4 linked regions of the Homo sapiens genome follow. The protein of the gene in region 1 interacts with the protein of each later gene in a pairwise test. Each region holds a gene or a part of one and is shown on either strand. Other genes may lie near its edges. The genes, in order: DESI2, ARFIP1, SEMA3G and NFU1.

The links.
Region 2: the proteins of DESI2 (region 1) and ARFIP1 interact in binary tests that used the Homo sapiens proteins (3 or more experiments, as listed by UniProt).
Region 3: the proteins of DESI2 (region 1) and SEMA3G interact in binary tests that used the Homo sapiens proteins (3 or more experiments, as listed by UniProt).
Region 4: the proteins of DESI2 (region 1) and NFU1 interact in binary tests that used the Homo sapiens proteins (3 or more experiments, as listed by UniProt).

What each region holds. Positions count from the first base shown.
Region 1 is NC_000001.11:244,649,090-244,656,133, reverse strand, and holds the start of DESI2 (deubiquitinase DESI2), read right to left. Parts: upstream 3,009-7,044; 5' UTR 2,821-3,008; coding exon 2,779-2,820; intron 2,222-2,778; exon of another isoform or gene 2,202-2,221; coding exon of another isoform or gene 2,109-2,201; intron 1-2,108. UniProt on the Homo sapiens protein: Has deubiquitinating activity towards 'Lys-48'- and 'Lys-63'-linked polyubiquitin chains. Deubiquitinates 'Lys-48'-linked polyubiquitination of RPS7 leading to its stabilization.
Region 2 is NC_000004.12:152,775,140-152,782,974, reverse strand, and holds the start of ARFIP1 (arfaptin-1), read right to left. Parts: upstream 3,022-7,835; 5' UTR 2,749-3,021; intron 1-2,748. UniProt on the Homo sapiens protein: Plays a role in controlling biogenesis of secretory granules at the trans-Golgi network. Mechanistically, binds ARF-GTP at the neck of a growing secretory granule precursor and forms a protective scaffold.
Region 3 is NC_000003.12:52,435,082-52,442,103, forward strand, and holds part of SEMA3G (semaphorin-3G precursor), read right to left. Parts: intron 6,829-7,022; coding exon 6,738-6,828; intron 6,610-6,737; coding exon 6,493-6,609; intron 6,329-6,492; coding exon 6,183-6,328; intron 5,968-6,182; coding exon 5,853-5,967; intron 5,743-5,852; coding exon 5,673-5,742; intron 5,441-5,672; coding exon 5,296-5,440; intron 5,018-5,295; coding exon 4,786-5,017; intron 4,691-4,785; coding exon 4,599-4,690; intron 3,881-4,598; coding exon 3,839-3,880; intron 3,119-3,838; coding exon 2,890-3,118; intron 2,586-2,889; coding exon 2,446-2,585; intron 993-2,445; coding exon 522-992; 3' UTR 1-521. UniProt on the Homo sapiens protein: Has chemorepulsive activities for sympathetic axons. Ligand of NRP2.
Region 4 is NC_000002.12:69,427,431-69,434,452, forward strand, and holds part of NFU1 (NFU1 iron-sulfur cluster scaffold homolog, mitochondrial), read right to left. Parts: intron 4,576-7,022; coding exon 4,472-4,575; intron 1-4,471. UniProt on the Homo sapiens protein: Iron-sulfur cluster scaffold protein which can assemble [4Fe-4S] clusters and deliver them to target proteins.

The sequences.
Region 1 (7,044 bases):
CTATACAGACAACAGCAACCCTCATCCAAAGCATCTCTGATGAATAGGAAGAATTACCAAAGATAAAAGGAATTTACCCTTGGCATCAAACAAAAATATTTCAAAAACCAAAACTGACTTGAGAAAAATTAGTATAACAGACCAAAATTTGTATCTCAATCTAAACAACTGATCACACTGTTCCCCTCCATGAAAACCTTAAATGGTTCTGCTGGCTCAAGGAGCCCCCTCAGCCCTTCACCCAAGCCCACAACACATCTGACTAAAGAAGTTCTAATCAAACTTTCAGTTTTGTCTCCTTTCATTTATGCTCTACTCTAGTTATACTGGACCAGCTGATAGTTCCCAAATCCCACCTGCGCTTTCCCTATTCCTGCCATTTTGTTCACGTCAATTGTTCTCTGTCCTTGTGGATGCTACCCATTCTTCAAGTTTCATACCTTTGATTTTTCAGCATTCCCTGATCCTACAACTACATAGTCTCCTCCTTTGCATCCTTGTCTGCTCTTATCAAAACCATGCTATTCTGTCTTGAATTGTTGCCACTGTTGTGTATCTCCTCTACAATACTCTAAATTCCTTAAAGAAGAAAGGACAGTTAACTCATCCTTGTGGCTTCTACCAGGTCAAAAATAATAAGTAATGGTAGGTTGCTGAATTAGTGACATAAAACACTCAAAGCCCTCAAAAGAACATATAAGACCAAGTTTATTAAAAGTCTAATAATTCAACTATTTATCATTCCGATAAACATTCATATGCTTCATCTCCTGTTCACAGGCAAAAGCAATATAAAGACATAAGTGCAGGAATTAGTAGAGAAGATAGTGAATCAGATTTTGGTCTACAAATTCTAGATTGTATTTTTAGTTGTTTAGGCAGATCACTTACTCTCTCCCCTGTCTGCTGCTTCTCTAACTACCTATTTTACAAACTTGATGTGAAGAATAAGATCTCGCTCATTAGTCAATATTTTAACATCGTTCAGAACAGTCCTCCCTTCGAAAATACTGAATACCATCTCTAGCTTTTCCCAATCGACCACAATTTGCAGATTTTCCTGTATCACAGAATGCCTCAAGTGTAAAGAAGCCCACTATATGCCAAAACATGCATTTTCGTTTTCATATAAAAGGTAAAACTCTCTTCCTCTATTCTCACAAATTCTTTTAGGCTCTGAAACCATGGCTTCTGGCCACTGTATACTCCTAATTTAAATACGGGTTTGTTTAATAATCTAGGAGAAAAGGCACACTGTGATCTCAAGAGCAGAATATATTCTGAAAGACAGTAATAGCCCTCATGAATAAAAAACAAACCAAATTCAGATTAGGGGGATGTGCACAGAGAAAGTAAAAGGGCAGTTAAGAGTCTTGAAAGATAAAGGTGTTCAGCTGAACACAAAAAGTTTAAATCCAGAGAATTATTTCTCAACCAGTGACACAGGCCACAGAACTTACAAAGTGCCATGGTTTTCTAGGATCTTTTGTTTGGCTTATTCTCCTCTTCAACTTTTTCTGTCCTGTTCCACTTTTCTCAGCATGTTAACTCATCTCCTTTCATCTCCAGGCTCACATCAGAATTCAACAGAGGACTCATCTCAAGTGGCAGGCAGTTCCTACACCCTTCTGACACAATTCCCAGATATGGCATGAGAAATCCCACTCTACCCAAGATATAATAACACTGTAAATTTAGAAACTTATAAATAATACAAGGGAATACAAAGTTTAGAACTGTATAAGACTCTTGGCCTGTAGTATTTCTGCTCTCCTGCATCTTTAAGCCAACAAAAATAACGACGGGCAATTTTTCATTTGTCAGTCAACTTACAAGGAATTTTAAGCACTGCAGTCAGAGGTACTAATCCAGTCTACAGAACAAAAACCCATTCTACAGAACAAAGCAAGCAAACACACCCAAACATGCATCTAACTGCAACGACAATTCTCTACCGGGTGCTTTTTTCTGGGGGCATTTCACTGCAAAAATCAGGCAAACCAGTTCTTGGACTCGATTCTGCGTGCTTGCCATACTCCAAAGTTAGATGATACAATAAACAACTTCTTCCCTTCCCTCTCCCGTGGTCACGTCACCTGTTGCATCACCTGGAAAGTGGTCTTCAGAGTGTAGGAAAGGAGCACCACCAGGATCTCTAAATAATTCAGCTGGGCTATTTTCTTGAGAAATGTTAGCCTCATTCATATTTTAACGAGGTTGCCTTTAACACACAAGGAAAGGGTGTGTTGGCTCCTGTTCACCTTTGAAGAGATTCTAGCACAGGCACCCGAAAGCTGTGACCTTCTGGACTTAGAGGGGCTTGGGAGTTTCTGAAGACGTAGCCATGGAGAGAGACGGACAGTTCGGCAGAAGCAGAGGAGCTGGGAGCGCAGGCGGTCGGGACGGGGGTCCCGGGGCAGCCCCGGGGGCCGGCAAGTGGGGTTGGAAACGCAACGGAAGCTTTGCCGAAAGGACACTGCACGTCGGCCAAGGGGTCGGGCCCAGAGCCGGGGTCGGGTCCAAGCTGAGCGGATGGGAGAGGTTCAAGCCCACCCGAGCTTTGGCCAAAACCCTCGGGCTGACTGGGTTCACCGGAGCGTCGACGAGTGCGAGGATTAAAAAATAACAATACTCCCTCCTTCACCCCCGGCTTCCCCCGAGAACTAGGCTGGAGGCGGAGACGCCAGGCAGGAAGCGCCTGGGGCCGGGGTCCGAGCCCCACGGGCGAGAGGAAGCCGGCCTGGGCCAGGGCTCGGGGCCGCCAGGGGCCGCACTCACCATGTCGTACACGTTGAGCACCACTAACTGGTTAGCCCCCATCCTCCTCCCCGCGGCCGCCGCCTCGTCCTCAAGCCGCTCCGTCTCCGCGGGGCCGGAGGCCGCTCTCACCCCCGCGGGCGCTTCAGGGGGCCTGAGCCGGGCACTAAGCGTACAGCCCGGCCCGCGGCAGCCGGGGCGGAAGCATCGGGCAGCCGAGCCGCTCCCGGGCGCCGCCGACAGGAGCGTCTGTGCGGACGGGGCCGGACCGTTGGCGGCCCGCTCCGGATGAGGCACCTCCCCTAGGCGGCAGACACGTGGGGAAAGGCGGGGCTTGAGCAAGGGGCGGGCGCCAGGCGCCCCGGGGGCGGGGCCGGCCCGGCGCCAGGACTGAGCCCGCCTGCGCTCTGGTTCTCGGCCGGCGCACCTCGGGACCTAAAATGGCGGCAACTCCGGCGCCTCCGCGTCCTGGAGGAACGGGGACCCAGGAAGACTACAGTTCCCAGCATGCAGTGAGGATTCCCCCTTGCTACTATAAGTGCAGAGGCGGAGTCTCAACAGCCCTTCGACTACAACTCCCTGCATGCCGCGGGGGCCCCGGTCCTACCAGACCAGGCCTCCCCGGGAGACTACAACTCCCAGCATGCAGTGCTTTAGAGCTGCGGCAGATCCCTTGCCGCCCGCGGGCGGTGAAATCTCCTACCTTCATTCACCCTCTCATCTCAGGTGCTGCTGCTGTTAGTAGTTCATGTTGCGTTGAGCTCGATGAAGCCAGCGAAATGTGGCAAAAGACCAGAGTGATGACCCTAAGTTTTCCAAATGCTTCCTCACCTTTTATTTGGCAAGGGGAGTGGTGGGGAAATAGAGGAAGACGAGTTACTGGTGTGGGATGAGGTGTAACGTGCATCCAATTAATCCTCAATGTGGAATTTACATTTTGTGAAACTATCCTGCTGAGATGGGAAGGGTACAGTAACCGTAGCTTAGCACAATCCTGGGACGTAGTATGCAGCTCTGCATTAATTCAACAAATGTTTGTTATGTGCTTCCTATGTGCCAGGCAGTGTTGTAGGCCCTCGGGAATGCCGTGATAAACAGGAACAGGGACATACAAAATATCACTGGTATGTGCTTTGCAGAAAATTTAAGTAAGGTGAAGTCATTCTTAAATTGGCTGCACGGGGAAGATCGCTGTAATGAGTTTTAAGCTGAAATGTGAATGACAAAGCCAGCCCCGCAGATATGAGGGGGAGGAGTATTTCAGTCAAAGGGAACAAATGCAAAGATCTGAAGCATGAAGGAGTTTTCTGTATTCAAGGAAACAAAAGATCACTCTTGCTGGGACACAGTAGGCAAGGAGTCGACGGTACTAGATGAGCTGGGCAGGTAGGCAGAGGCCAGATCCCGGAAGGATTTTAAAATTCATAACAGGGGTTGTATTTTAAACGAAGCCATAAGTTTGGACCAGGGAGTGAAATGAGTGTGCGTGTGTTTAAAAATGATTACTTGGGTTGCTGTGTGGAAAATGGATTTCAGAGAGGCAAAGGAGGTGGAAATAGGGAGATGAGTGTGGCAGATTGTGAAAATAGCCACAAATTATTTCCAGTCTCCCAAATTATACTCTTTGGTGGTGTCTACCCCCACTGACTGCACTGGACTGTGACTTGCTGTGGACGTGGGACATTAACATCGTGCAAGCAGAGGCTTAAAAAACACTTGTGAGTTGGGGCTTGCCCTCTTGCTGAACTTGGGAGTCCTGTGACCACCATTTTAGGAATGAGTGTGGGCTAGCCTGATGGATGATGAGGGACACGTGGTCAAGTCACGGCCCACATCCAGCTGACAACCAACCAACTGCGAACATGTGAAGCTCTCCCGGACTATCCTTCCCTGGCCACAACCACATGGATCGGACGAACTGACCAGCCAACCCACAGAATGTGAGAAATAATGTTTTAAGTCACAAAGTTTTGGGGGTGGTTATGTGGCAAAAGTTAATCAAGTCCACCAATTGGATGCTGTTCCAGAAGTGCATGCCAGCAAGTGGCTTCGTTGTGGCTGATAGTGGTGGAGACCGAAATAATTAGAGTTTAAATATTTTGGAGTAAAGTCTGTGGAACTTGCTAATGGGTTAGATGTTGAGTTGGTTAGGGAGAGAGGATTCGAGAATAACTTCTAGATTTTTGACTTGGGGAACTGAGTGGATAGTCCTGGCACTTCTAAGATGTGAAACATTTTGGGGAGGAGCAGGCTGGGGGTAGGGAAATCAAGAGCTATGGTTTGGTCATGCTAAGTTTGAGATGCCTTTTAGACATCCATGACTGCCAAGTAGTAGACATTTGAATAAACTGGAGTCATGGCCATTTATAGACTTGGGGCTTGGTTGGATGACCTAGGAATATGTGTAGCTAAAAAGAAGTGGGCCAAGAACAAAGCTCTAGGACCCTTCACCATGTAGAGGTCAAGTAAAGTATGAAGAGGAAGCACGGAGGCAGGAGGAAAATCAGAAAGAACATGATAACATTGATGTCAAGACTATTGGATTCAGCAATATAGAAATCACTGGTAGCTTTGATGTGAGCGGTCTCTGGGAGGAGTGAGATTTAAATAACTGCTTTAACAGTTTGAGAAGCAAATGTAAGGTGACAAAAGGGAGACAACTTAACTTGGGGGCAACAGCTGGATAAGGCGGTGTGGTCAATGGAGGGCATTTTGAAGATGGGAGATGCTGAGGCATACTTGCATGTAAAGGGAGAAAAATTGATATAGGAGAGGGAAAGATTTGCAAGGGCAAAGAAGGGAGAGGGATCCAGGACACAAGTTAATGGTTGCTGTTTAGTAGGGGGGATGCTTCATCTGTAGTGATGGCATAGAAGGCAGATGCAGGTGCACAGTTACGGCATAGAAGGCACGGAGACGGGTAGGCAGGTTAGAAATACGGGAGTGTAGGAAATGAGGGTGTTTATTCCTGATTTACTTTTACTTTCTCAGTGAATTATGAGGCAAGAATGTCTTCAAAGAGTAAGACGTGAGGAGAGGGGCATAGGGAGTTTGGAGAGACAGAAGGTGATGTAAAATAGAGGAAATAAGTAAACTTGGAAAATATGGTTTGTCAGGTAGTGTTGGGGGACAGTAAATGCTGTGCACATCATTACTTGACTGTCCTCTGGAAGGTTGTTGACAAAGTTCTAAAACCTGTTTTTGGTGCATCAGCTGCCTTGCTTCTCTTTCCTCCCATGGTGTTCCTCCCCACCTTAAGCAATTACAAACTACGTAATCACATCTGCTAAGCCCTTTTTCCTGTGAAAGGTGGGGAAAAGGCACTGTGCATTTGCACCTTATTTAGTCCTGGCTGCAGTCCCCATAGATTCACTTTAACTCTTACTGTACACACTCCCTTTGCCCTTTGTGATCTCATCCACTCTCAGCTGTAACTGTTGCATGTATACTGAAGAGCCGCATGTCTCCATCTTCGGTGCTCTTCTCTCTCCAGAGTGCTAGGCCAGTATAACCTACAGCCTCTTGGACTTCTCTAACAGGATGTGTTGGTTTCCCTTGGCTGCAAATTGCCACAAACTTAGTGGTTTAAAATAACACAAACTTATTTTCTTATAGTTCTAGAGATCAGAAGTCCAAAATGGGTCTCCCTGGGTTAACATCAAGGGCTGTGTTCCTTCTGGAGACTCTAGGGGACAATCTGCTTCCTTGCTTTCCCAGGTTCTAGAGGCTGCCCTCATTCCTTGGCTCATGGCTCATGGCCCCGTCACTCCAGTGCCCACCCCCCACCCCACACGCCATTTCCATCATCATGTCTTCTCTGACTCCCTTATTTCTCCTTCTTACTTATGAAGAGCCTTGTGATTAGATTGGGCCCACCTGATAACTGAGGAGTCTCCCTCCATCTCAAGATCCTTAATCACACCTGCTAAGTCCTTTCTTCCTATGAAAGGCAACAGCCACAGATTCTGGAGATTAGGATGTGAACATCTCCCGGGGGGGCTGGGATTCTGCCCTACCACACAGGATGGCCCATGGTTACTTTGAATTTATCAGGTACAAAATAGAATTCATCATCTAATGATGGAATGAGTTATGCTGCTCATGTAATTCAGGTATTGATCCATCAATAATGAATCATCCATCCTTCATTCATTGAACAAGTGTTAAATGAGTACCTTTGATGTGTCAGCCTCTGCGTCACTAATTCACCTGTGATAGAACAGACATGATCCTACTCTCATGAAGCTTACAATCCAGTGAAACACAGAGAAGAATATATATATTCTT
Region 2 (7,835 bases), on another chromosome or scaffold:
AGACAGAGGAAAACTTATTCTGTGAGCAGAAGAAACTGGATACTCATGATAGACTATGATGAGCTGTATAGGTCTCTTCAAGTTAACATTCTAAAAAAAAAAGTATCAGACCTTTAGAACTGCAACCCTCAATCAACAAATAATTCACAACCAAATCAGTAAGTTCAAATATGTACTCTAAAACTTACATTAAGCTTGGAAGGATACTAACGTATTCACAAGAGAGAAACAATCATTAAAATATCTCATACAGAATGGAGGGAAAGGGGATGTCAAGATAAGCAACAACATTCCAAAGGACCACACCACTGAAACATCTTGTTTGTTTTTCATAGCAAAGCCAAATCAAATCCTAAGGTACATGCCTCAAGCAAAAAAAATTAAGAAAATGAAAGCAAAATACAACTAGAATTTAAATTTTTTACTCTGAACTGTGCCTAGTTGGTTGGTGATATTTAATACATATTAAAGATAGGCACATCAGTTTGTAAATCCACTGGATCTCCAGAGCATGGACCACAAACAGCTATCCCTAAGAAGAAACCTCAAAACCACAAATCAGGAAATAAAGTGGGCAGCCTCATTTCCTTCTGTAAGTCTAGGAAGGAATTTAGAAACACTAATGTTTTAAAGGAGAGATTTCAATATCAAACTAGAAGAATCCCTGCATTCTCCTTTCCTTGGTCCCAAAGCAAACAATTTACAGTTTGGGAAAACACACACACACACACACACACACACACACACACACCCCTACCTGTTTTCACTAACTTCAACAAGACACTGCCTAAGTGGTGGTTTTAATCTATCAAGAAGCTATATATCTCCTTTGCACAGTTTGGGAAAGCACACACACATACACACCTGTTTTCACTAACTTCAACAAGATACTGCCTAAGTGGAAAACACACACACACATACACACACAAAACCTGTTTTCACTAACTTCAACAAGACACTGCCTAAGTGGTGGTTTTAATCTATCAAGAGGCTGTATATCTCCTTTGAGAATTTGATAAAAACAATGGACACTTTCCCCAGGGGGGAAAAAAATTCACTCAAACAAAACTGCATATAATTTCAGGGGTGGGAATGAGGAAGACCCCTGAAAGTTGTTGACCCTTAGGCCATGAACCCCAAGTCATCATCCAGGATTAAGGCAAATCATAATCCAAGGAAAACCAGTTTATCAATTTGGAAAGAAACTAAAGTAACTGAGGCAGGGATTTAATCCACAAAATACATTAGAAATCTTTTCTCTTTTCTCAGATAAAAGTGTGTTAGACTTGGTAGTTGGGAGAAGACGTGGGTCATGCTAAGCAAGGAAAACAAAACAAAAAACACCACAGGACAAACGAAAGAAAAGCAGAATTAAGGCAGCAGTAAAATATAGTAATCTGTAGCCGCTCTGAGAGAACAGCAATGAAATGGCCAATTCGGCCGGGCGCGGTGGCTCACGCCTGTAATCCCAACACTTTGGGAGGCCGAGGAGGGAGGATCATTTGAGGTCAGGAGTTTGAGACCAGCCTGGCCAACACGGTGAAACCCCGTCTCTACTAAAAATACAAAAATTAGCTAGGCGGTAGTGGCGCCTACCTGTAAACCCAGCTACTCAGAAGGCTGAGACAGGAGAAAAGCTTGAGCCTGGGAGGTGGACGTTGCGGTGAGCCGAGATCGTGCCAATGCACTCCAGCCTGGGCGACAGAGTGAGACTCTGTCTCAAAAAAAAAAAAAAAAAAAGAAAAAAGAAAAGGCCAATTCCTGAAGCCTTAACAGACGGCTGACTTAAGGTAACCATTTCTGGTGCACATTTCTATGCCAATTAAGTTAATTAAATGGCAAACATGAACACACCCTTACAGGTGAAAGTATGAAAGCAAAAGTTTATGCGAAGTTCTGGATCTCTTCCGGCTTTTCCTTATCAAATAATAATGTAGTTAGATGAATTTTATACTTTAGGAGAAAACAGGGTAGGGGCGGGGGACAGAAATCCTAAGAGTGGCCAAAGGATCTGCAGGAAGTATAAAGTGTAAACTTTTTGAAATCAAAGGGCTCAAGAGGAAGGTAAGAACAAAACAAAGGAAGTAATAACAAAATAAAGTAAAAGGGAAAAACGTCTAGCATCTAAAAACTGTTTTTAAAAAATTATTTCCTTTTCCTAGACACGTAAACAGTAGTAACTTGGCAAACAGGAACGGAGCAGAAGACAATCGAACAACTCCCTTTCCAAAACTCCAGCATTCCTTAGTCAGGCTTGGGACATTTCACAGGCAAGACTCCTCTCTGCACCACTGCCAGATGAATCTCTCAGAGGGACTGTCACTATCTCCCTTCCTCCCACTGCGGGAGAGAGGAAGCTGGGGATGCAGGGAGAAGAGGGGAGAAATGAGGGTTGGACAGCAAGCCTGAAGGTGGCCCACTCCGACACTTTGTCAAGAAAGGTCCGGATTCTGGATCCTGCAACTCCTTTTCCCACCCAATGTATGCAAAGCCAAGAGAGTGCCTCCCTGCAAGGGCCGGTCCTACACCTTCACTCGACTGTTTCGGGGGCACACTCAGAGGGACAGAAGGAATGAAGGACAGAAGAAACCAAAGGCATAACACTTGGGCAGATACGGCACAGACTAAGGAGAGGCGTGCCCTGTGAAAGTTCGGAACGGTGAACCCGTAGGCAACGTGCCCGCCCCACCAGCCACCTCAAACCATCTTTCCCCCGCCTTTTCCCAGGCGAGCCAGCTCCGCCCTCACCTTTCTTAGGGTAACTCGGTAGCTTCTAAGTCGAGGCTTATCCTTTCCGCCGCTCTCTGGAATCGCCTCAACCCTGGCAAAAACTGAGCGGAAACGCGACCCGGACCTTTTCCTTCTTCCCCTTCCCCCACGCACCTCGGCTGCTCGGGGGCGGGGAGCAACTGCAGCTGTCACAAATTCACACTGACCAACCGCCGAGGACAGTCGGACCGGCGACCTCTCAACCCAGCCTCCAGAACCAGAACCAAGAGCAGCGAAGCCGGAAGTGAGGAGACCGGAAGTAGCGTTGTCCCTGGCCCTGGACGGCCTCTCTCTCCCTCAATCCGGCCTTGCCCGGCCACGTCTCGGTGGTGTCAGCGCACCTCCCACGAGGATCCCTCCGCCCTTCTCCGGGAGGCGGGCTACGCCCCTCCCTCTGCTGCCCTAGCAACCACATCCGGGACTCCGGCGGTGTCGTTGCCCGGGTAATTTTCTGGCAGCGACCTAATGCGCGCGGGGCCAGAGGCACCGGCTAGAGCTGGGAGCTTGCGGAAGGGCGCCCCTGCCTGGTCTTGAGAGGTCGAAGGTCTCCAGGAGGCCTCCGCCTCCCTCTTTTTCATTCACACACCCTAGCCTCACACGTTAGGAGGACCCCCCCAACAGACCGTGAGCTGGTGCCGGGAGGGTGGAGGTAGATGTACCTCACCTCCACGCTACCACAGAAGAGCGAAAGCTGCTTTCTCAGCCACCGGAGAGCACGAAGAAGGTTATTCCAGTCCCGGGGGGAAGGTGGGGGTGGTAGGGAGAATGCGAAGATAAGGCAGCAGACGGAATGCGGGCGCTGCCTCGCGCTGCCCCCGTGCCTGGGGAGCCCTCTCCCTTCAGAAAGGCTAGACCCCCGGGCCCGGCATCCCTGAGCTCTTACTTGCTCTGGATTTGTGATCGCTTTTTGCTTTTTGCTCGCTCTCTCACAGTAGATTCCTTGATACTTTTCTTTCCGGCTCCTCTTTCTTTTTCCGGATGACCGAGCTCTGCTTTCTTTGCTTGCCCCATTACTTCTTAAATAGATCATTGTTCTGTCACGGAAACTGCTGAACAATTCGCTCTCTCAGAGCCCTTCGTAGTTTCCTAAACGGGGCCCCAACCTGCACTACTCTCCCCATCCCCAGAGCTCAGTGGTGCGAAAGCGTGGCTCCCCCGTGGCGCTAGATAGACCTGAAGTTCATTTACACACTGTACCATACAGTTGGTCCATCACAGAATATCCCTTCGAACTGCTGGACTGCTTTTCCTTTGACAGCTTTGAATGCTCATTTTTACTCCCATTTCACTTGTAGAAATGCGAAGGGTAACTGTGCACACGGCGAGATTTACCCTTCTTTAGACCGTACTTCTCAGCTGCCTTTACTTGTCACAGTAGCTGACAAGATATTTTTAATGACTAATGCCCAAAGGCAGAGCTCTACCTCTACAGATTTCCAGGGAGTTTCAGTGTAGTGAAATATCCCTGGCAGGTATCTTCCCCAGATCTGTGAATAGTAAACACCTATGGCACCATAAATGTTTCCAATGTATAACAATATTGATTGAGCTCTCTAGGATACCACCTCTTAAAAAAATAGTACTGAAATTCCAAAACATAAATCTCTTATCTTAAGTGGTTCTGTCTTAAACAAAAGAAAGGAGCAAATATATATGCCAACCCACTCAAACTGTAACTTCAATTGTTATAGCTTACTGTGGATTTTTCTGTACAAAGCCATCTTGTTGGTTTGGAGACCATTAGTCTTCTCAATTATAAGAAAATAATCCCAATCTAAATTAATTACTGCTGTAATTGTGTAGGAACTGAGCAACTACAGAACTTGCAGCTAAGTACAAGTGTTGTTCCTAGGGTTTCAGAAGGGTGACTTGGAGGAAGTGTACGGTAGGACTCAGCGGTGCTTGAATGATGTGGACAATGAATACTAAATTGTTTTTGCTGGCTGTTATCTTAAAGATTCCTGCTAGCTGTCTCTTGAGTTTGGAGATGCTTAGCTTGACTAAAGTTAGTCTAACTATTAGACTGTCAGACTCTGAAGTGTTTCTTATTTTGGAAAGGTGAAGACTTGCTTTAGTTTGTTCATAGTTTCCTTGGCAGCTGCTGATGGTTTTGATGGAGATTCAGATGGATTTGGAACTAATGCTAACTTCTGCTTGGTGAAGATGCTAACCAAGTTAGATACTCTTCAGTGAATTCTGGTACTGTGTACGATTAATCCTCATCCACAGTATTACGCTGTGCAAGGCTATATATACACAGGATTAATCTTTCCATGATTTCCACTGCCCTGAAGGAAATTAGAATGTAGTCTGGCTCCAAGAAAACACTAGAAACTACTTCAGCTGGTGATGGAAAATAGTGGAATTCTATACATCCTTTGAGACAATGGAAGCAGCAAACCAGCGTTCTTTGGATTGGGGAATATTTTTGGTACTAACTGAAAAACATCATTTTAAGCCTGGCCCTGCTTAGAGGAGACTTGTTTTCTCTTCCCTCTCTCCCTCTCTTCCTTTTTTCCCTCCTTCCTCTTTTTCTTTCCTCCTTTCCTTCTTGTCTCCCTCCCTTCTCCTTCCTTCCTTCTTCCTCTTTTTCTTTCCTCCTTCCCTCCCTCCCTCCCTTCCTTCCTTTTTTCCTTTCTCCCCTCCTTCCTTCCTTTTTTTCTTCCTTCCTTCCTCCCTCCCTCCCTTCTTTTCTTCCTTTCTTCCTTTGCCCTAAAACTTGGGGGACCCTGCCTGCTCATTTTGTTTAGAATAGAAGATTACTACTTTTCTCTGAATTGTCATTTATTTTTAGAGAGGTAAGAAAAAAGGGAATAGCTGCCTTCCATATATACTTATGACATGGAGATTATCTACTCATTTAACTTTGCACTGCTATTGGCTGTTTATTTGGCTTTTGAAAAATCAGGTGCTATTTATTCATTGGGCTTGTGGGGAACTCTAGTAGCCCTGAATGGCATTTGTGGCATACTCAATGAAGTCTAATTCTTTATCCTGGCATTAAAGGCTTACCAAGATCTGGCCTCAATCTTGCAAATGAGCACTCTCTTATATACCTGAAGGAAAAGTGCTAATTTAGCCAACTAATAGAGATAGGTATAAATACCAATATAGACATAGATATGAAACTTTAGTTGCAAAGAAATGTTTAATATGCTTCAAAGTGCATATTTCCCTCTTCCATGCTTTATTGTCTATTCTTATCAGCAGAAATGTTTTCCTATTTTTCCTTACCTGTGATGTACCTATCCATCCTTTACAGTTGAGTTCAGATGCTACTTCTGTCATGAACCCATTATTTATCCTCCCTGTGAGAATTCATTTTTCCCTGTTTTTGGATCTTACAGCCTTTGATTTGAGCCCCCATTTCAGTCTGCTTTATACTACTGTCTTGCATGTTTTCCCATGATAAATAAGATGGTTTTTGGGAAACTGAACTTTGGACTTACTTGATTCTCTTATAACACCAGGAAATTGGCCAATTCTAGTTGAGTTATGGAAATATGTTGTCTGCTGCATACCAGGCAAGTTCAAGAATACCAGCAACTCCTGCTACTTAGGGTAATGGTACAAGTAGGATTAAGTGGATATAGTTGCTATCTATCTGTAGAAGACAATGAGTGAGTGCTGTCTTAAGTTTGGAAAGTAGTTGATTCTCTGCAGAGGGGTATAAACTACTGATGAAAGGAGAGTGACTCATTACTCCTAGAGATTCTGAATGGGAAGAATGCCAGCTTTATGTTTTCTGATACTGATTTTTTTTTTAATAACTTGGTGCAAAAGTAGAACATTATTCTAAGATGACTGTTGTGGAAGAAAAAAAAGGTAGAACATTAGAGTTGTAAAAATGTTTTTAACTATAAAGAGGAAAAAACTGAACTTATTTATAATTCATTTACCTAGAGAGAACATTCAACATTTTGGTCAATGTATTTTTTTTCTTTATATCTATGTAGATATATATTTCTTCATTTATTTAACAAATTGCTACTGACACCCTATGGTTTGCTGGAAGTGAGCTGTGTAGGAATAACCATGAGCCTCTGCTCTGATGTAATTTTTAGTGTATGTTGTATTTGTTGACATATAATTTTATATTTTGCTTTTTTCACTTAATGTATCATGGAATTTTTTCATATCATTAAATATTCTCTTTGTGTGGCACAATAGTATTTCAGCATGTAGATATTTTGTAATTTATTGAATGAATCCTTTTTGTTGCATATTTTCAATTTTGTCTGTAATTATATAGCAATGCAGGGAATAGTCCCGTGTAGCAGGTGGAATTCTAAGATGAACTCCAGTGACACTTACCTTGTATAATTCCCTCTCCCTGTGAACATGATGGGATATTACTTCCATGATTATGTTATGTTACTTGCAAGGGAATTTTGGAGATATAATTAAGGTTGCTAATCAATTGACTCTGAATTAATCAAAAGGGCAATATTCTAGGTAGACCTAACCTAATCAAGTGAGCACTTTAAGAACAGAGAGTTTTCTCCTGCTTGTGGCAGTAGAGGAAGTCAGAGAGATTCAAAGTGTGAAAGAGACTCTACAGGAGGAATGTTCTCCATTGCTGAAATGACAATTTCCCACAGACAAGGACCTGAGGGAAGCCTCTAGAAGCTGAGAGTAGTCCCTGCCAACAGCCAACCAAAAAAACTAGGGACCATAGTCCTACAACAGCAAGGAACTGAATTCTGCAAACAATCTGATTGCGCCTGGAAGCAAATTCTTCCCCAGAGCCTCCAGATAAGAGCCCAGCTTCTGACCAACATCTTGATTTCTACCTTGTGAGACCCTAAACAGAGGACCCAGTTGAGCCCACCTGGACTTAAGATCTACAGAACTGTGAGATAATAAATGGGTGTTGTTTTAAGGCATTGAGTTTGTGGTAATTTGTTGCATTAGCAGTAGAAAACTAATACATTTGTAAGAAATTATTTTTACATCTATAATTATTCTTTTGGGATAAAATCCTTGATATAGGCCGGGCATGGTGGCTCACACCTGTAATCCCAGCACTTTGGGAGGCCAAGGTGAACGGATCACGAAGTCAGAAG
Region 3 (7,022 bases), on another chromosome or scaffold:
CCACCTTCCCAACACCTCTGTGTTCCCTCCCCAAGTCGGTCAGGTAGGCTCTTCTTACGGGGTGCTAGCTTAGAGGCCATTTCCACCCTCTGGCTCCCTGCAGGCCCCCTACCGGGATACCCCCTAGACGCACCCACACACCCACTCTGAGGGTCACTCAGAATGGCCATTGTTCTGTAGGCTGGGAAAGAACCACCCAACCCTCTTGCCTCTGGGCACACCCGGAAATGTGTTGCGGAAGCCAGGCCATCTCTGAGAACAAATGGCAGATCCCTTGGGGCTGCCAGCAGCCAGAGGGTGCTGGCTCCAGCTGGGTCTAAGAGCACAGAGAAGGGCAGGGAACAGGCTTCAAGAACCCAGCCCCTCCATTAGACCCCAGTAGCGGTGTGGGGGCAGAGACACCTGTCTCTAAGAGGCAAACAGACATCCTGACCCCTCTGCCCTAGCTGGGTGGGTGGGAGATGCTGGGGGCTGCTAGTGGGCCCCCCAGCCCATCCTGACCACCCCTCCTCTGCCCCCTTCTACGTGGCCTCCACCTCCCGGGGCGTCCGATTGTGCTCGGCATGCACCCGGCTCTTCATCTTCTTGCCTAGCTCCAGCCCTGCCCAGCTCTTGCCCCTGGCCTGCTTGCCCCGGCTCCGGCTCCGGAAGCAGCCTGAGCATTCCGTGGTGCCCCTGCACCACACGCGCTCACAGTACTCATCCACCCGGGGCAGGTTGGCGAAGCCAATGAGCTGCAGGATGTCCTTGTACCAGGCCTTGGGTGGGGTGGAAGCCAGGCCTCCCCGGGCTGGGGGCTCCTCTGGCTTTGGCTCCGGAGGGAACAGGTTGTCCAGCTGTGAGGCCACAATCACCACCAGAGCCAGGCGGACCACAGTCTGGGAGAAGCCATGCTCCAGAGTGGTGCAGGTGTAGGTGCCCGCATCGAAACGGCTAAGCCTGCGGAACAGCAGCCCCCGCTCCGTGTGCAAGACTCGCTCGTCCGTCTTCACCTGCCATGCGGGCGGGAGGGCGTGAGTAGGGTGCAAGGTGGGAGTTTACCATCGGCTTCTCTGCCCCAGCTTTTCTGCCATCCTTGGGGCCCAGTGCCTGGGCACTTCTTGCCCTATTCTCCCCTTCCCAGGAGGGGACCAGCAGCGTGGCAGTCTGGGCCTCCTCTAGACCACCAGCTAATTCAGGTGGGGCCTCACCTTCCCATAGCCCAGGAAGGGGCCTTCTCAAGGATTTGACTGGCTGGTTTCTCCCTTAGTCAGAGGACTCCAATCTTGGCCTCAGAGGGCCCTGGCACACATTCCCAAGGAACATAGGGGCTAAGATGTTATCCCCTTAGCCCTTCTGGAGGTACCATCCCATCTACAGGCTTTTCTCAAGGGAGGGGCTGTGCCCCCTGGCCCAGAACTGGGCTTCAGAAACTCCCTATGCTACACACATACAATGTGCGTGTGCCCACGCACACATGCACGTGCACGCACACACACACAGAGACACACACAGGGCCTTCCCATCCTGGTCTGAACCGTTCATTCCCCCAACGGTGCGAGCTGACAGCCCCAGCCCAGGGTGGGCTGATCGCCCATCACAGCGTGGGAAGTGGGAGTGCCGCCCTGATCCCAGCCCGCCTCTGGCCTGGACCCTGTGTGGGTTTTAGTCTGCACATCTGTGTGTTGGGGGTGGATTGCTTGAGCCATTAGCTAGTGTTGTGAAACACCATCTTGTTGCTCCCCTCCTCCCCTGGGGAATCTTCTCAGTGCCCAGCCCAACAGCTGGCCCAAGGCTGGCCTCCCCCAGTTCCCAGGCTGGAGGGAGAGCCCCTCCTGTAATCAATCCACTCCTGCCCCTCCCCTTCCCTGCCCCGGCCAATGCCCATCCTCAGGCCCCAGACTTAAACCATCCCTGGGGTTGATAGACCTTTCCGGATGGGGGAGGAGAGGCCCTGAGCAGACAGCTGGACTCCAGGGAGGAAGTGTGGGGCCAGGCTTTGAGGGTGGAGGGCAAGGACCAGTGGTTAGGGACCCAGAAGGTTCTCTTCTGTTGTGTGTGTGTAGCATAGGGAGGTTCTGAAGCCTAGTCCTGGGCCCAGGGCACAGCCCCCTCCCCTGCCTGGGGCAGAAGAGAACCAAGAACCCCTGGAGAAGAGAATCCTTCAAAGATGAGCCATGTGTGTAAACATGGGAGACTTACTGGCCTGCCCAGACCCTCTTCTCTCTCTTCCATCACCCACCCCTCAGACTGGGGGAGTTCCAGCCACATCTGGCCTGGGCATTCCCAAAAGGCAAAAATAGGGCACCTCCTTCTAGGCACCCCAGGAGCCTAATACAAACTTTTTTTAGGTTAATCTTGGCAGATTCCCCCCAGAACCCCTTTCTGGGGCTCAGGTCTTGGGGTTCAGGATGGGAGGTGACCTCAGGACACACAGAGGCTAGAGGCAGGGGTCTCCTCACTCACCTGGTCAGGCCCCTCATCCCCTGGCCTCTGCAAGAGCCAGCGCACAGCAGCCTGGGGAGACTTGGGCAGGCACTCCAGGAAGGTGCTATTGTGCTCCGTGCCGTAGACCATGGTGGCTGCCACAAGTCCCACTGCCTCTTCTGGAGAGAGGCAGAGGTTGGCTCAGCTTGGGAACTATGGGACCCAGATCCCAGTGCCACCACCTGACACCACAGCTCAGGAGCCCCACTAGTATGACAAGAACTTAGGCATGCGTGGATCCCCAAGCCAGCCACTGTGTCCAAAGACCCTGCTTCCATGCACTAGCAGGAGCTACACAGAGAGGGAAACTGAGGACTATCCGTCATGACAAGACCAATCTGAGAATGCACTTCGCAGGGGTGGAGCCGGGCCACAGGGGTGAGTTCCAGCCCAGTCTGGGCCCTCCCACCTGCCACCACTCACCTTCCTGGCTCTGGCCCAGGCACTGCAGGGCAGGGTTGCCGTGCCGGATGTCCTGCCGGCGGAACCGGCGCTTGCCAAGGCTGGGGCGGTAGTGGGTACAGGAGGCACCATCCCAGGCACAGTATGGGTCCCGGGCCAGGCAGCACTCTGCACAGGCAGTGCCGTAAGTCTCACATTGGTGCAGCCGCAGCTGGGCCACACCCAGCCGAGAGCCCACGTATAGCATTTGCTGGGGAGGGACAGAAGCAGAGCCTGAGGTGAGCCCAGGCTTCGCCCACACGCAGCCAGGCTCTCAGCCCCTCAGCTTCCTGAGACCCCTGCCACTTGCAGGAAGTCTTCCAGAACCTCTTGGATTCATTCAAAAAACAAAAAGTGTTTATCACCCATCTGCTGCATACCAGATTCTGTGCCAGGACACAGAAGGGATGGAGGAGAACCAAGACCTGGGATGTTTTCTCTAAGGGGCTTCTCCAGGCCCTCCCAGGTGCTGACCTTTGCCCTCTATCCCAGGGGCCTTTATCCTGAGTTGTCCCTGACCTTAGAGGTGCACCTTGCTTTAAGCAACCCTTGCACGAAAGTTAGGATTTACACAAAGATACACTGGAGCAGATAAATATGGGGAGACGGGTTTTGCCACTTGGCAAATATAGTAGGCCTCTAAAAAGTGGCCTTGTTGGACTTAACATCTGGATTTTGTGTTTTCAGGCACACTTTTGCCTCCCTTAGGAACTGGCCTTTGTGACTATCCCCTTATCTGGACATGGCCCCACTTACTCGGTGCCTCCAGTGCCCACTGGCCACTTGTTGCAGGGGCGAATCAGGCCTGCCTCAGCACAGCTTTCCCCAGACTACAGTGGAGCTCGAGGAGGCTGCGGAGCAGGGGCAGAGGAGGAGGCTGCGGAGCAGGGGCAGAAGGGGGGTCCAAGAGGAGGGTGGCAGCTGTTCTTACCCTTTTGACAGAGATCTCCATTTCGGTGATAGGTGTTGGCACCTGGGGAAGGAGAAGGGTCTCAGTGTGGGTCGGGTGGACCAAGACCTGCCCCTGCACCCCTGCTTTCAGTCTCCTCCAACCCTGGGGTGGGAACCACCTAGCTCCCAGGCTGGGTCTTGCACTCCCTGGCAGCTAAGGCTAGACAGTCTTTCCCAGACGATGGGTTACAAGAAAGGCCCCCTGGTCATGGCTGGCCTCCAAGCAGGAGGCTTGACTGAAAGCACAGAGCTAGAGTGTCCCCTCTCTCAGCCTGTTCCCCAGCAATGAGGCAGCTGTCCCAAATTACCCAGCTCAGGTCCAGGAGGCACAACAGGCCCCCAAACACAGATGACCCCCTTCCTGAGTCTCTAGAGGGGCCAAGAGAACATCTAGGGGCCTTGGGATCTCAACCATCTCCTCCTTGCAACTTGAGTCCTACAGGGGTTTGCAGAAGGTTGCTTCCCTTGACCATCCCTCCCAGCACCCCAGGCACTTTCAGCTCACAGGCTGTAGCTCTGGGCCTCCAGTCATTCATAAGTGGCTGCGAGGCCTCTGCCACAGCGGAGGTGCGGGGTGGAGGGGGGGCATCTCTTTCTGCATCCCCTCCCCAGCATCCTGCCAGCTGCAAATTCAGTAAAGACAGGCTGGCTCCCTACTGGGCTTGCTCCTGCATCCCTGTAGCCAGGCTCAGACCCAGAGATGGGGCTTGGAGGGACCCTTCCATCAGCCCCTTGCTTACCTTAAACACCTGGAGCTCCTCCAGAACCACTTCCTCAGGTTCAGCTGAGCCCCCTGCCTGGAGAGCGATGACTTTGAGCACAGACCCTGAGTCTGGGGCCAGGGAGGAGGGGTCAGCGGGACAGGAGGGGACAGCCAGAGACCCCACACCCCTCTCCAGCCTGGCCACCCTGGCTCAGCTGTCCTACCAGTCCCCAGGAAAATGACATCGTAGGTCCCATCCTCTGCCTCCACGCGGTCCACCACGATCTGGTGTAGCTGCTGGGCCAGGTGGGTCTTGACAAGGACAGGGCGGCCATGTCGAGGCCGCACAGGCCAGAACATGAGGGGGTGGGCTCGGGCAAACTGCAGCACCTCATCTGGGTAGTCCTTGGTGCTGCCAAAAGGCCGTCCTGGCTGTGCGGTCATCTTGCTGGGGCACTGTGGGCAGCAGGGAAGGGAGTGCCTGAAGTATCCTGAGACAGCACACACCCTCCACCGCCAGTCTGTTTCCACCCCAACCAGGGGGACCTCTCTCACTGCAGGAGGGCTCTCCTCTTCCACTACACCCACCCCACCCCACCCAGGCCCTCTGGAGCCCAGGCTTGGCCAACGTCCGCTGCCGTGGGGGTGCATGGGGACATGAGGCCACTCCAAGGAGCCCTTCCCCACATCTGCTCAGGCCTCGCTTCCCTGGCCTGGCCCCAGCAGATACTCACCACGCCAGGGCGAGGGAAGGGCACCTTGCCCCCATAGGGCCCCCACTGGTGCTGAGGCCCATCTCGGTGGGCAAAGGGCCCGTTGAAAACCTCCCAGATGTCTGCCATGTGGTACACACAGACGGCGAAGCCCTGGAACACGGCACTGCCGGGGCACATGGGACAGTCAGGCCAGAGTGGCCATCAAGGACAAGAAGGGAACAGCCTGGTTCCATGGGCAGGACAGAGGGTGACAGTGCCTGCAGCAAGCAGAGACTCCGAAAAGCAAAGACCCCAAGGCAAAGGCAAAGAGAGAGTCAGAGAGTACAGTCACAGGTCACCGAATCAGGGACAAAGACAGGGGCCCATCGCAAGGCCGGGGTGCTGGGTGTGCCCACCTGACGGTGCTGAACAGCGCGTACACCTCGAGGCTCTTCCCGGCCTTGGGCCACAGCAGGAACACATCCTCTGGGGTAGAGAAAGGAGTATGAGTGTCATGGCCACCGCCAATGCCCTGACTCACCAGCTCTCAGCCCTCCCCACTCCCGAGCCCTAGGCCTGCTTGGCCAGGCCCTCACCTAGCTGGTCAAAGTGGGTCTCGGCACCACCAGGGCCGGGCACCGAGCAGACCAGCCTGGCCTTGAGGAAAGTGCTCCATTTGTTCACCAGCACCCGCTGGCCCCCAGCATCATTCTGCAGGATAAGGGGCCAGAGTCACGCTTGGGCCCCACGAGGATGGGTCCCACCATCCACTCTTCTACCCTCACCCACTCGGGGAGAGGTATGCATGTCAGCTTTGCATCCTTGCCTCAGTTTCCCTACTGCTGGCCAGGGGTGGGGGGAGAAAGGTCTGGGAATGGGAGGGTGTAGCAGGGACTTGAACCTCACCACCCCTTCCCAGCTCTTACCACGCAGACGCGGCCCACGCGGCTGACAGTGACATGGTTCGAGCCACCATCGGGCGAGGGGACCGTCTCCGAGAAGAAGAAGTACACCTTGTCATTGTCCTGGTCAGAGTTCTCAGGGATCCGGGCGGCCATCACAAACCGGGGGTCTGGAAGGGTGACAGGGTCATGCTGGGTGGAGGGGCCCCACAGGGGAGGATGGGAGTAGAACCCAGTGGGGAGAGGAATGGGGCAGGGGACTCCCACTGGAGGCTGGTGTCCTAGCTGGGAAGGTAGCCTCTTCACCCCTGCCAGTTCCAGGGGCAGGCCTCACCGTGCAAGAGACTCTGGTCAGAGTCGGAACGCAGAGCTGGCCGAGGACCTCCACTTCGGAAGATCATGGCCTCTCGCCCCAGGAAGTCAGCAGTGAGACCCGTGTACAGCTCCCCGTCTGGGGTGGGGGTTGGGGAACAGAGTCAGGGGAGGAGGCCCAGGCCCAGCAGCCGGGTCCCTCCCTTCCCAGTGACATAGGCCAGCTGCCACCCTCCCTGTTCTCACCCTGGCCTGGGCATCACCCACCTATGAAGGTGCTGGCAAAGGGACGGCTGGGCTCGTGAGGGCACCGCCCCCGGCCACTTTCCACACTGCCAGGCTCCAGGTGGAGCACATGCTAGTGGGAGGGAGAGAGGGAGGGAGGGGCGTCACCTGGGAGAGAAGCACCAGCAGCCCACACCCAAGCAGGAGCCCTCGCGTGCGGCCAGAGAGCGGGGGTGGGCGGAAGGCGTCCTCATCCAGGGCCCCTCTAATGGGGTCAGCTCCCCAACACAAAGGCGCCTTTCAGGCCCCTGCCCCTCTGTCCCTACC
Region 4 (7,022 bases), on another chromosome or scaffold:
CAGCACTTTGGGAGGTAAAGGCAGGTGGATCACAAGGTCAGGAGTTTGAAACCAGCCTAGCCAACATGGTGAAAACCCATCTCTACTATAAACACAAACGTCAGCCAGGCGTGGTAGTGTGCGTCCGTAGTCCCAGCTACTTGGGAGGCTGAGGCAGGAGAATCACTTGAACATGGGAGGCGGAGCTTGCAGTGAGCCAAGAATGTGCCACTGCACTCCAGCCTGGGTGACAGAGTGACACTCAGTCTCAAAAAAAAAAAAAAAAAAAAGGCCAGGTGTGGTGGCTCACACCTGTAATCCCAGCACTTTGGAAGGCCGAGGTGGGCAGATCACCTGAGGTCAGGAGTTCAGGACCAGCCTGGCCAACATGGTGAAACCCCGTCTCTACAGGGGTTTTGTAGAGGTAGGGTTATTTTGTAGAGGTATTTGTAAAAATACAAAAATTAGCCAGGCGTGGTAGTGCGCTCCTGTAATCCCAGCTACTTAGGAGGCTGAGGCAGGACAATCACTTGAACCTGGGAGGTGGAGGCTGCAGTGAACCAAGATTGCGCCATTACAGTCCAGCCTGGGCAACAGAGCAAGACTCTGTCTCAAAAAGAAAAAAGAAAAAAGAAAATGAACCTTCTGAGTAAAAAGAAATCCTCCATCTTACAGCAGTATATTTAAATAGACTGACAATACTATATAACAATTAAAATTTATTCAGTGCCTGGCCGGGCGCAGTGGGTTATGCCTATAATCCCCAGCACTTTGGGAGGCCAAGGCAGGCGGATCACCTGAGGTCAGGAGTTCGAGAACAGCCTGGTCAACATGGTAAAACCCTGTGTCTACTAAAAATACAAAAATTAGCCAGGTGTGGTGATGTGCGCCTGTAATCCCAGCTACCTAGAAGGCTGATGCAGGAGAATTGCTTGAACCCAGGAGAGGGAGGTTGCAGTGAGCCAAGATCCAGCCACCACGCACTCCAGCCTGCGAGACATAGTGAGACTCTGTCTCAAAAAAAAAAAAATTATTCAGTGCCTATCATGCACTGGGCAGGGTGCTAAGCACTTTACATGTATTATATCATTTAATCCTTACATACTTTCAATGAGTACTTTCAATACTTACTATTTTTATCTTATTTTATAATAAGGAGACTAAAGGTCACTCAGCTACTAAGTGACAGAGCCAGGATTCAAAGCTGGACAATTTTCTAGGTGCTGACTTTCTTAGCCACCGTACATATTGCTAATCCTTATCTAACATTGCCAGGCATAATAGGAAAATACATTTAAGATCAATCTTCCTGTCCTAATTTTCACATCACCTATTTTAGGAGAGAGAATAGAATATCAAAAAGCAACAGTTTTATTTTAAATTTGAAAGAGTTTAAATTTGGCAAAACATATGGTTGGTACAAAAATGCTTTTCTTAGTCATTACAGAAAAAGTTCTAATTTGACAACTGAGAGCCATTTTTGTACTTTGCCATGCAGTTCCAGCTAGCTGAAGTTAAACCATTTCATGGATAAAGAAAAAAATTGAAAGTGAACTCCCATACATTTTGTTTAAATCCTTTTTCTAATTAGACAACCAGACAATTCCTAAAAAATGAAAAAATAGCCGCAATGTCCAAGTACTTCATTTAAAATATGTATATTTCTAGTAAGACATTCTTCTGAAAATCTGTGTTATAAGGGAATGATTTTTCAATGACACATTAAAGAAAGGGCTGCCAACACTTTCTGTAAATAATCTTCTAACTCTGGCTCTGAACCAATCATTTCTTGCAGCTTGTATTAATAATTTATTGCTAACCAAAATCTGCACACAGTACTCTACCAATATTTGAAAAATTAAATCTGGCTTCAACTGGGTGCATCAGCTCACACCTATAATCCCAGCACTTTGGGAGGCCAAGGCAGGAGGATCACTTGAGGGCAGAAGTTCGAGACCAGCCTGGGCAACAGAGATCCTGTCTCTACAAAAAAATACAAAAATTGGTCAGCTGTGGTGGCATGTGCCTATAATTCCAGCTACATAGGAGGCTAAGGCAAGAGGACTGCTTGAGCCCAGGCAGTAGAAAATGCAGTGAGCCAAGACAAAAAAAAAAAATCTGGCTTTATTCTACTCAATCAATTTGAGAAAAACTACACCTGCAGAAAGCAAAATTTTTAGAAATCCTTGAGGGTAAAAACTACAAATGCAAAATAAAAAGTCACTTAAGAGCATATACTCTATACTATCTAAAGTAGAAAGTATGAAAATGAATGACATCATCACAGAACTTTTTACTGTTGACAATAAATAAAGCTATTACTAAAAAACTAATTCAGGCTGGGCACGGTGGCTCACGCCTATAATCCCAGCACTTTGGGAGGCTGAGCCAGGCAGGTTACTTGAGCTCTGGAGTTCAAGACCAGCCTAGGTAATGTAGTGAAACCTCGTCTCTACAAAAAATACGAAAATTAGCTGGGTGTGTTGGTACGCACCTGTAGTACCAGCTACTTGGGAGACTGAGGTGGGAGGATGGCTGGAGCCCAGGAGGCGGAGGTTACAGTGAGCCAAGATCACATCACTGCACTTTAGCCTGGGCAACATAGTGAGACCCTGCCTCAAAAACAAACAAAAAAAAACACCTAATTTGAATAGGTACTTAACAAAATCATTACAATTATAATCTCAATTGGGTTTAATTTTGTATTTCAAAAATGACTCCCAGGTCCATCATCCAGAAAGATGCTCATGAAAATGTCATGAGACTTACAACAGGAAACAGGACAGAATGATAAAAAATATTTCTTCCTTTTTTTTTTTTTGAGACAGTGTCTCACTCTGCTGCCCAGGCTGAAGTGCAGTGGCATGATTACAGCTCACTGCAGCCTCAACCTCCTAGGCTCAAGTGATTCTCCCACCTCAGCCTCCTGAGTAGCTGGGACTACAGGCATGCACCACCAAGCCCAGATAATTTTTGTATTTTTTTGTAAAGACAGGGTTTGACCATGTTGCTGAGGCTGGTCTTGAACTTCTTGGGCTCAAGGGATCTGCCCGCCTCAGCCTCTCAAAGTGTTGGGATTATAGGCATGAGCCACCATGCCAGCCTATTTTTTCCTATTATGCTTGGTACTAATAGGTACCTAAGGAGGTAGATGTAAACTCCCCCAAAATACAGATTAGTGGTGCTTAAAGTCAATATCAATGACTAAAATTAATGGGTTTCCTATTTGAAAAGCCTATATGACCACATATTTCAGTCCTACAAAGTTTAAAAGTCCAATTAAAGTGGTTTAATCAGCTGAGTTACTCAGTATTTACAATATTTATATCTAAGCTATTCTGTGATCCAAGCAGTCAGGCAAGCCTGCAGGAAAGTGTTCCTCTTCTGGCCCCTGGCTACAGAAGGGGTAAGGTCTACCCTGATTTAACTCACGCCCTTAGCCAGAATCAGCCAGAGTATGGCCACAGGAATGTGTTCAAGCTAGCAATGGAAAGGAGAGGCTGAATTTATATGCTTACAGCTCCATAACACATATAGGTATACATTTACATACATACACACATGCAGACACACATACCCTCTCCCCTTAAACTTCCCTAACTCTACATTACAGTCATCACACTTCAAATTATTTTAAATCATATCTATTTCCCAAATTAAAGAAAATTAAAGTATATATCTCGTTAACAATCAAGATTATTAACAAAACCATAGTAATTAATTTTGACAAAAAAGCTTTTCTTTCTTTTTTTTGAATGTAGTTTTTTACTACATTCAAAATCCTGTGTTCTAAGGTCTGGATGAAAGCCAGAAATTTACTAATTTTAAGGGTATTCTTATCCAAAAAAAGGACAGCAGTAGCTTTAAATACATAGAATTCTTTGAAACACAATCCCCATTTGAAACTTCTTTTTGAGACAGGGTCCCACTTTGTCACCCAGGCTGGAGCACAGTGGTGTGATCACGGCTCACTGCAAGCTTGAACTCCTGGGCTAAAGGGATTCTCCCACCTCAGCCTCCCAAGCAGCTGGGACTACACGTGTGCGCCACCATGCCCAGCTAATTTTTTGTATTTTTTGTAGAGACAGGGTTTTGCTGTGTTGCCCAGGCTGGTCTCAAACTCCTGGGCTCAAGCGATCAACCTGCCTCAGCCTCTCAAAGTACTGGGATTACAGGCATGAGCCACCACACCCAGTCAGATTTTAACTTCTACAGTATTTTCATTTTGGAAATCATTTATTGAGCAACTCTTGTGTTGCAGGGGATATGTTATACAACATACTGAGATTTCATAGATCTATTGGACAATATCCTTGCAAATACATTTTCTACTTAGAAGCCTATAAGAAAAATATAGCTTTTTTTCCTATATTCTATCTATAGGCTTCTAAATAGAAAATATACAAATTCTCATCTTTTATGATCCACAAAATCCTAGCACAGTTCCATCAGTTTCTGAAACACAACTGCTATAAAAGAGGTGAAATTTTACCTGGGTGATAAAAGGCTGCAGGTAGTGGGAAAAGTGGTCTTTGTACAAACTGATGCAGAGGCTGTTTCTTAATGGTGTATGGATTCTTCAACATATGACAGAACCTGCATTTAAAAGCACATAATGAATGACATTTTAAGAGCTCTAATCTTTTAAAGTTGGTTTCTACTTCTCATGTATAAAAAAGACCTATGTAAAATTTAAACATAACCCGCAATAGAAATAATTAGAGAACTGACTTTTCATCTTCCATCTACATTATTTCCACTTACTTAGGCAAGCAATATCTACAAACAATTCAAAATCAGGTAGAGCTCAAATGGAAATTCCTACCCTTGATAACCGGGTGTGCACAGGATAATATAACATTGAGGTATAAGAAACAGAATTGGGCTGGGTGAGGTGGCTCACGCCTGTAATCCCAGCATTTTGGGAGGCCGAGGCAGGTGGATCACGTGAGGTTGGGAGTTCAAGACCAGCCTGACCAACATGGAGAAACCCCATCTCTACTAAAAATACAAAATTAGCCGGGCATGGTGGCACATGCCTGTAATCCCAGCTACTCAGGAGGCTGAGGCAGGAGAATTGCTTGAACCCAGGAGGCAGAGGTTGCAGTGAGCCAACATCATGCCATTGCACTCCAGCCTGGGCAACAAGAGTGAAACTCTACCTCAAAAAAAAAAAGAAACAGAATTGTATCTACATTAGTAATTTATAACCCATAGTCCCAGACTCTTGGTTATACAGGAAGGAAGCAAATAACTATAAGCTTTTTTATTTTTTTAAAAAATTTAGAATTAGGCAATAGAGTCACATGGTTCAAAACTGGTAAGGGAAAAAAGCATAAATAGTGAAAGCCTCCCTCCTTTCCTGTCCCTTACGTTTCCCTCTCTCAAGATAACCTATATTACCTGTTTTGAAAAGTATTTCAATACTTCAAAAAATCTAAAAGAAAGTATACTATTGGGCCAGGGGTGGTGGCTCACGCCTGTAATGCCAGCACTTTGGGAGGCCAAGGCAGGTGGATCACCTGAGGTCAGGAGTTCGAGACGAGCCTGCCCAACATGGTGCAACTCCATCTCTACTAAAAATACAAAAAATAGCTGGGAGTGGTGGTGGGCGCCTGTAATCCCAGCTACTCGGGAGGCTGAGGCAGAGGAATCGCTTGAACCCAGGAGGCGTAGGTTGCAGTGAGCCGAGATCGTGCCACTGCACTCCAGCCTGGCCCAAAGAGCAAGACTCCATCTCCAAAAAAAAAAAAAAAAAAAGTATACGACTGTCCTTTTTGTTTTTGAGATGGAGTCTCACTGTTGTTGGCCCAGGCTGGAGTGCAATGGCACAATCTCGGCTCACTGCAACCTCCATCTCCCAGGTGCCAGCAATTCTGCTGCCTCAGCCTCCCGAGTAGCTGAGATTACAGGTGCCCGCCACCATGCCTGGCTAATTTTTGTACTTTTTAGTAGAGACAGGGTTTCACCATGTTGGCCAGGATGGTCTCGAACTCTTGACCTCAGGTGATCCTCCCGTATCGGCCTCCCAAAGTGCTGAGATTACAGGCATGAGACACCACACCTGGCCCGTCTTTTTTTTTTGAGACTGAGTCTCACTTTGTCGCCCACGCTGGAGTGCAGTGATGCGATCCCAGCTTACTGCAACCTCCACCTCCTGGGTTCAAGTGATTCTCTTGCCTCAGCCTCCCTAGTAGCTGGGATTACAGGTGTACACCATCACACCCGGCTAATTTTTATATTTTTAGTAGAGACAGGGTTTCACCACGTTGGCCAGGCTGATCTCCAACTCCTGACCTAAAGTGATCCACCTGCCTTGGCCTCCCAAAATGCTGGGATTACACAGCCAACGATCTTGATCACGCTTTTCGTGTTTTGTTTTGAGACAGGGTCTTGTTCTGTCACCCATGCTGGAGTACAATGGTGTGATCAGGGCTCACTGCAGCCTCAACATCCTAGGCTCAAGTGATTCTCCCACCTCAGCCTCCCAAGTAGGTGACACTACAGCTGTATGCCACCATGCCCAGCTAGTTTTTTTTTTTTTTTTTACTTCTGGTAGAGATGGATTACCACTATGTTGCTCAGGCTGATCTCCAGCTCCTGGCTCAAGTAATCCTCCCACTTTGGCCTCCCAAAGTGCTGGGATTATAGGCGTGAGCCACCATGCCCTGCCTTTTATATGCTTTTTGGATGGAAACATATTAACCCAGTGTTGTAACTTCACTTCACTTTTTTTTTTCTTTTTTTTTTTGTGAGACGGAGTCTTGCTCTGTCGCCCAGGATGGAGTGCAGTGGTGCGATCTTGGCTCACTGCAACCTCCGCCTCCTGGGTTCAAGCAATTCTCCGCCTCAGCCTCCCAAGTAGCTGGGATTATAGATGCCCACCACCATGCCCGGCTAATTTTTGTATTTTTAGTAGAGACAGGGTTTCACCATCTTGGCCAGGCTGGTCTTGAACTCCTGACCTCATGATCCACTAGCCTCGGCCTCCCAAAGTGCTGGGATTACAGGCGTGAGCCACAGCGCCAGGCCTCTAACTTTAC